Homo sapiens: one gene and its partner. The protein of the gene in region 2 interacts with the protein of the main gene of each other region in a biochemical or structural test. Each region holds a gene or a part of one and is shown on either strand. Other genes may lie near its edges. The genes, in order: PRKCE and NANOG.

Region 1 (3,820 bases), on a different chromosome or scaffold from region 2:
TGATATGCCCCATGGCACCCCCTCTGCTTTCCCACTCCCAGCCCCTGCTTCCCAGGAAGTGGCCACCAGCCTTTGGTAATAGCATCATCAGGGCCAATGCCTTCTCCCTTCTCCCTTCTCCCGAGCTCTGACGCACTTGAGGGGTTGGCTCCAGGTGACTTCCCGTGACATGGAAGCCTTGCCCTTCTGCCCAGATCCACTGCCGACAGTTAATTAGGAAGCAGATAATTAGAGCCAAGCCTAAAAGGAATCTTACAAAAGATGCCACCCAAAATGAGAAGGCTGTGGAAGGGGCCTGGAGTGGGGTGGCAGGGCGGCTCTGTGGTTTCCACAGCACCATCCAGTCTCAGCACACACAAGCCACCTTCTCCCCACCCCCTGAAGGCACAGAACCCAGCTGCCTCCTTCCGAGAAGCTGGAGGGCAGCCACTGTAGCACCCAGTGTGCCCTGAGGCTAGAAGAGAAGGGAGCATGCCCAGTAGATACACACAGTGGCCATGCATGCTAGCCAGTCACAAGATGTTGACTGTCTCCTGGATGATAGAACAGGCTGGCCACAGCACTGGGCTCAGTAGCATGTTACAGCTCCTACCCTCTGGTACCTTATAGTTGCACTGGGGAGACCGCTGGCCATGAAAAAATAACTAACGACGTAGTGGTATGTGGAAAGTGAGAAAGTGCCTGCAACTCGTAGGAACAGGCAGGGGTCTTAAGTTGGGCGCTGTGTCTTTTGAGGTTGAGGGAGGAGTTGGCATTGGCTTTGGAGCATAGCAGAATCACTGGCTCCTCAGGACAGTGGAGCCCATAGCTTTGACCTTACAGCTCAAGGAACACTAACCACTGGGCTTAGACCAAAGGTATTAGCTAAACAGATTACCAGCCCCAAGTAATGTAGAGTTGGCTGCATTTTCTCAAATTCCTTTTCATTCCAAATTCAGAAGATTCTAAACTGTGAGTGTTTTAACTGTTTCTAAATGCTTCTTCTATCCAAATCTTTCTAGTTCATCCTAAGCAATTTGTAACCTCTAGAAGGGTATTTTGAGCAGACCACAGAAAGTCCAGATACTTGAATTCAGCCTCCTCTTCCCTGGCCACCATGAAATCTGAGAACTAAATTGGAGCCTTGTCCCCAGCCTGAGATATTATCTGCCCAAGGTGTCCCATGGGCTGGAATGACTAGGCATGAACTTTGCCTTTTTTTTTCAGGGTCCTCAAAGTGTTCCCCCTTGCAGGATATGCACTCCAACCTTGTTTCTCCTTCCCTTTTTAAAATTCTTTATAGAATTATGGACCTGGATAGGTCATCTCATCCACCCTCCTGTTTCTGGGCAGAGCCATGCCTAATCCCACTCTAATAAGAAGAGAAAATAATTGTGGAATGGGAATGTCACCTCATGATCTCTTCCTTGTAGAGTGGACAGCTCAGCATTTATTTTTCCTCTGAGCCAAACACATCATTGATCTGCTACATATTTATTTTATTTATATATGTTATATTTTAAAGGCATACTGTAAAATACAAAGCTCTATACAGCTGAAAGGTGATATTAAATTCTAGTCTTTTCTATTGGATGTCATCTCCATATATATATATATGTATTTTTATATATATGTATTTATATATATGTATTTATATATATATGTCATTGACATGCTACATATTTATATGTGCGTGTGTGTGTATCATGTATTTATGACATATGTGTATGGAGAGCAGATCAAATAGAATAGCCAATCAGAAAAGATCCTTTTTTTTTTTTTTGAGATAGGGTCTCACTCTGTTACCCAGGTTGAAGTGCAGTCGCATGATTATGACTCACTACAGCCTCAAACTCCCGGGCTCAAGTGATTTTTCCACCTCAGCCTTCTGAGAAGGTGAGACTACAGACACGTACCACCATGCCCAGCTAATTTTTTTTAAGAGACAGGGTCTTACCATGTTGCCCAGGCTGGTCTCGAAGTCCTGGACTCAAGTGATCCTCCCACCTCAGCCTCCCAAAGTGCTAGGATTACAGGTGTGAGCCATTGCGCCCAGCCAGAAAAGATGTCTTGTATTCAGTAGCATCATGTCATACATGCATTTAATCTAAGTGAATTTGACTCTACATATTTGGCTAGAGGAAAAAGAGAGACAGCATAGATAAGACAAGTGACCATTGTCAAAGACAAAATGCACCAGACAATCAAGGAGATGGTTCGATTCTGGCTATTGCAATAGGGGGTTCATTAGTGAAGGTGGCCCCAAAGGAAGGGGGCCTACGGTTTTGTAGAGGCAGGCAAAGTGGGGGATTCTTCAGTGGATCTTATGGGAATCATGATGAACAATAGAGATGGGTTTTTTCTTAGAATATGCAAGAGTATAGTGGTCCTTTATAGGGAGACCATTACAGGGTGGGGGAGACTTATTCATTGCAGTTTCCTCTCCAGGAGCACAGGGCTCAGGTAAATTGAGTGTTGCACCATTTAAAGAAGACCTCTGCTCACCTTTCCACTCAGGCAGTGAGCTGTGCCCTGGACTGTGTGAGATGGGAGACCTGACCTCGCTGCACTCTGAGTCACTTACAGCTTGTTCTCTCAGTATGCATCGTGCTCCCCTGACCCTGATTTTAGTGTCAAAATATGCAGTTTTTTAAAATGTGGCCCTCATGCCAGTCAGGAACTTTATCTGGTGCTCAAAGAAATAGGAATTTGTTCCCACTGGAAGACAGACTGTCGATGTTGACTTTGGAAAGATGATAGCTGGCCCCCAGCATAGTGCCTCCAAACTCAACTGTCACTGAATTTGCTGATTTAGAACTTCTAGGACTAGGACTCAACTGTAGGGAGGAGCAAGTTGGAATTGAAGTCCTTCCCATGGGCGTTCGTAGCACGGGTGTCACTGGGGTGGGAGCCTTTGATGGTGCCTGACATTGCTGGTTTCCTGAACAGATCCTGCAGGAGTTGGAGTATGGCCCCTCCGTGGACTGGTGGGCCCTGGGGGTGCTGATGTACGAGATGATGGCTGGACAGCCTCCCTTTGAGGCCGACAATGAGGACGACCTATTTGAGTCCATCCTCCATGACGACGTGCTGTACCCAGTCTGGCTCAGCAAGGAGGCTGTCAGCATCTTGAAAGCTGTGAGTCACTGCCCCTCACCCATGGCTGTGCTCTCCTGGGCTCCTCCCCCTACACACACACACACACACACACACACACACACACACACACACACTCCCTTCTCCCTTTCTCTGTCCAGCTTTCTCCCTCCCACCTCTGCTCATCACCACGGAATGGGAAGGATTAAGGGCAGTTGCCACTGGGAGTTCAGGCACAGTGCAGAGGACTGCTGCCAAGAGAATGGGGCCTGAGATGACTTGCTCTTCTGGTGGGAAGAGGAGCGCATGTCTGTGCTTCCTGAGATGAGGCACTGTGTACATCTGTGTCCTCCAGCATTTCAGAGGGAACAGAAGCAACTCAACTGTGCTGACATCACCTCTGCCACTTCCATACCTTCCTTACCTGTGGCCTGTCTTCATCAGGGACCTGTGATGGAGAACAGAGAGGAGGGGAGGGAGGGTGGGCACCGCCCACCTGTGTCCACGACAGCATCACTGTGGCTCAAGAGCCAATCAGAAAAGATCTGGTACACTGGAAATTCATGCAGTCCTGCTGGATTTAGATACATAATACAGAGACTGACCCTGCCCTAGGAATCATCCCTCACATGGGAAAACCCCTTATGCTTTCTCAGCACAGCCATCTCTACGATGTAACAATGCTTGTACTGTGTCAAGCAAGTGATGTTACCTGTCCCCTTTTGAAATCCGTGAAAGCTGAGGT
Region 2 (3,820 bases):
ACTCCTGTCCTCAGGTGATCCACCCACCTTGGCCTCCCAAAGTGTTAAGATTATAAGCTTGAGACACCATGCCTGGCCTGCAAATAGATTTCATAGCTGCTCAATGAGCCAAGAACTACTTTCGTGGCCAGGAATAACTGCCCCTTTGTCTCTCTGATAAGAGCACATTGACACCCATGTTCCAGGTACATCTGTTCTGCAGATCCCTGGCCCTAATTGAATCTCAAATTCTCACCCTTGGTTCTTGTCCTTAGCTCTTGTGACTACGCCAGTGTTATCAGAGGACATGTAAACACTGCTACCCTTTCTACTCCACATGCACCTTATCCTAAATGGATTAATGTATCCCATCTTTTTGCCTGTTTTGTTCCATGTATTTAATTGATTTAATACGATTCTAGCATCTTAATTTGATCTGTGAGCTTTTCTGTTTCTTAATAGTTTGCTTGGTAGTATCATCAGAGGTAGTGCTACCACTGCATTGAAGTAATTTCTCAGATGCTTAACCTTCTAAAATTCTCAAGCACACTTTATTCAAGGACCACAGAGTTTACACCAACTACCCAGAAGCCAGGAATAGCTTAAGGAGAGACTCACCACCAGCAGCTTCTTTTCAATCAAGTTTCACTTCAACCTCACACCCAGGAACCCATTCAAATTCCTACATTTCGGTATCCTTAGTCGAACTAACTTCCTGTGCCGGAAGCTTTTGTCTGTCCCAGTGACTTCTTTCTTTAACAAATTCCCTTCATCTCCCCCTTGAGTCAAAGCCCATGGGGGCCCCAGGAGGCATGCAATATTTACCAAGGGCTCTCCCCCACTTTCCTGCCTCTGTCTGGCAGTTGTTTGCCTTTACTTTTAGGTTTGTAGTCACAGCCTGTATTTTTTCCTGTAGACACACCAGGTTTTCTGAACGGTAGAATTACTCAGAGTAGAATTAACCTTGTCCTTCACCCCGAGAACTGAGCTTGAAATTCACTAATCAAGGCCTGTATTCCTCCCACTTCTGAGTTTTAAATTTATATTATGAAATTCGGAAAACCCAGGCAAATTCAATCCATGCTTCTCTCCTTCAGGTACAAACTGAAATGAAAATGAAAGCTGAGAAATCAAAATAATGAATTTTAAAAACTAAAATATGGTAAAGCTACTAAAATATAGCATTGGAAGTAACACACACCTCCTTTTGGGAAAAGAAAGGAAAATTTTCTAGAGAAAGGAAGAAATGTTAAACAGAGAGCCTTGTACTATCCTTTTTGCCTAATCTCCTATTATTTTTGTTTATTTTTGAGACAGTGACGCTCTGTCGCCCAGGCTGGAGTGGGGTGGCATTATCTGGGGTCACTGCAACCTCCCGGGTTCAAGTGATTATCCTGCCTCCGCCTTCCAAGTAGCTGAGATTACAGGCGCAAACCAAGACCTCTGGCAAATTTCTGTATTTTTAGTAGAGACAGGGTTTCGCCATATTGGCCATGCTAAACTTGAACTCCTGACCTCAGGTGATCCACCTGCCTTGGTCTCCCGAAGTGCTGGGATTACAGGTGTGAGCCACGGCACCTGGCCCACTAATCTTACTGCTTTTGACTGTAGTTATTATTGTTACTTTAAAGATTATTCCAAATAGATCTCTAAATTCTTACCTGCCAAGAGGTTGAAGATTAATACTGGGTGATTAAAAAAAAAAAAGTTCAGAAAACATAATACAGGGCTAGGCTGGTGACTCATGCCTGTAATCTCAGCACTTCGGGAGGCCAAGGCTGGTAGACTGCTTGAGCTCAGGAGTTTGAGACTAGCCAGGCCAACATGGGGAAACCCCGTCTCTCCTAAAAACACAAAAGTTAGCTGGCATGGTGGTGTGCACCTATAGTCTGGGCTATTTGAGAGACTCAGGCAGGAGGATTGCTTGAATCCGGGAAGTCGAGGCTACAGTGAGGTGAAATGGTGCCACTAAGCCCCAGTCTGAGCAGCAGAATAAGCCCGTCTTAAAAAAATAAAAAAGAAGGCTGGGCACTGTGGCTCATGCCTGTAATCCTAGCACTTTGGGAGACCGAGGAGGGTGGATTACCTGAGGTCAGGAGTTCGAGACCAGCCTGGTCAATACGGTGAAACCCCATCTCTACTAAATACAAAGAATTAGCTGGGCATAGTGGCAAATCCCTGTAATACCAGCCACTCGAAAGGCTGAGGCAAGAGAATCACTTGAACCTGGGAGGTGCAGGTTGCAGTGAGTAGAGATTGCATCATTGTGCTCCAGCCTGAGTAACAAAAGTGAAGTTCCATCTCAAAAAAAAAAAAAAAAATTGCCCAGACACGGTGGCTCACACCTATAATCCCACCACTTTGGGAGGCCGAGTCAGGTGGATCACCTGAGGTCAGGAGTTCGAGACCAGGCTGGCCAACATGGTGAAACCCCATCTCTACTAAAAATACCAAAAATTAGCCGGGTGTAATGTTGGGTGCCTGTAATCCCAGCTACTTAGGAGGCTGACGCAGGAGAATTGCTCGAACCCAGGAGGCGGAGGTTGCAGTGAGCCAAGATTGTGCCACTGCACTCCAGCCTGGGCAATAGAGAGAGACTGTCTAAAAAAACAAACGATAGGCCAGGCGCAGTGGCTCACGCCTGTAATCCCAACACTTTGGGAGGCCAAGGCTGGTGGATCATGAGGTCAGGAGTTCAAGACCAGCCTGGCCAACATAGTGAAACCCTGTCTCTACTAAAAATACAATTAGCTGGGCATGGTGGCTCACCCCTGTAGTCCCAGCTACTTGGGAGGCTGAGGCAGGAGAATCACTTGAACTCGGGAGGCGGAGGTTGCGGTGAGCCGAGATCGCTCCACTACACTCCAGCCTGGGCAACAGAGTAAGACTCCAGTCTTAAAAAAAAACAAAATAAAACAAAAAAAAAACACTTGGAATTAGACTGGATAGTCTTAGTAACATTGGACAATTGGGGAAATAATGAGAGAAAAGACTGGAAAAAACCACTCTGATAACCTGCATCATGCTGCTTCAGAGTGAAGGGACGTGCTCTCAGATCAGATACATTTAGGGCAGGCACAAGATGGGAAAAGGACAGTAAAGGATTATTAGTATAATTCACAGATGCCTGCGTAGCTGCTCTTAAGGTGAGAACATAAATCTGTTTCAACTAGCCTTAGAATTTACTTACATATAGGCCTCTGATGAAACTTTAAATGTTAGCATCAATTACAGATTCATACACGGAAATAACCCATTACATTTGTAGATGCACATGTACAATGCACGTAAGTGCCCTTTTTTCTAAAACTGGCATATTTATTATTCATTCATTCTAAAACTGGCATATTTATTTATTATTCATTTATTTACTTATTTATTTATTTATTTTTGAGATGGGAGTTTTGCTCTTGTCGCCCAAGCTGGAGTGCAGTGGTGTGATATTGGCTCACTACAACCTCCACCTACCAGGTTCAAGCGATTCTCCTGCCTCAGCCTCCCAAATAGCTGGGACTACAGGCATAGGCCACCACGCTCAGCTATTTCTATGCATTTCTAAGATAGCAGTGTCCTCAGCTAATTTCCTTCTCCACCCCAACCAAAAATTTAACAAAGATTTATGTTTAAGCTGTATATTTACTCATTGAAACACTCGGTGAAATCAGGGTAAAATCAACTAAAGGAAAAATAGTTGTTTCATTCATTTGAACTTAAACCAACTAAAGCAGTACTCATGTCATTACGATGCAGCAAATACGAGACCTCTTTCTACAAAGATTAGCACAACCAACAAATTAGGGGATATAGCAAAACAGAGCCAAAAACGGTAAGAAATCAATTA

Evidence for each region.
Region 1: of the proteins of NANOG (region 2) and PRKCE, one has a biochemical effect on the other in vitro, tested with the Homo sapiens proteins (one study listed by BioGRID).

Annotation. Positions count from the first base shown.
Region 1 is NC_000002.12:46,148,113-46,151,932, forward strand, and holds part of PRKCE (protein kinase C epsilon type), read left to right. Parts: intron 1-2,928; coding exon 2,929-3,117; intron 3,118-3,820.
Region 2 is NC_000012.12:7,795,838-7,799,657, reverse strand, and holds the end of NANOG (homeobox protein NANOG), read right to left. Parts: 3' UTR 512-3,820; downstream 1-511. UniProt on the Homo sapiens protein: Transcription regulator involved in inner cell mass and embryonic stem (ES) cells proliferation and self-renewal. Imposes pluripotency on ES cells and prevents their differentiation towards extraembryonic endoderm and trophectoderm lineages.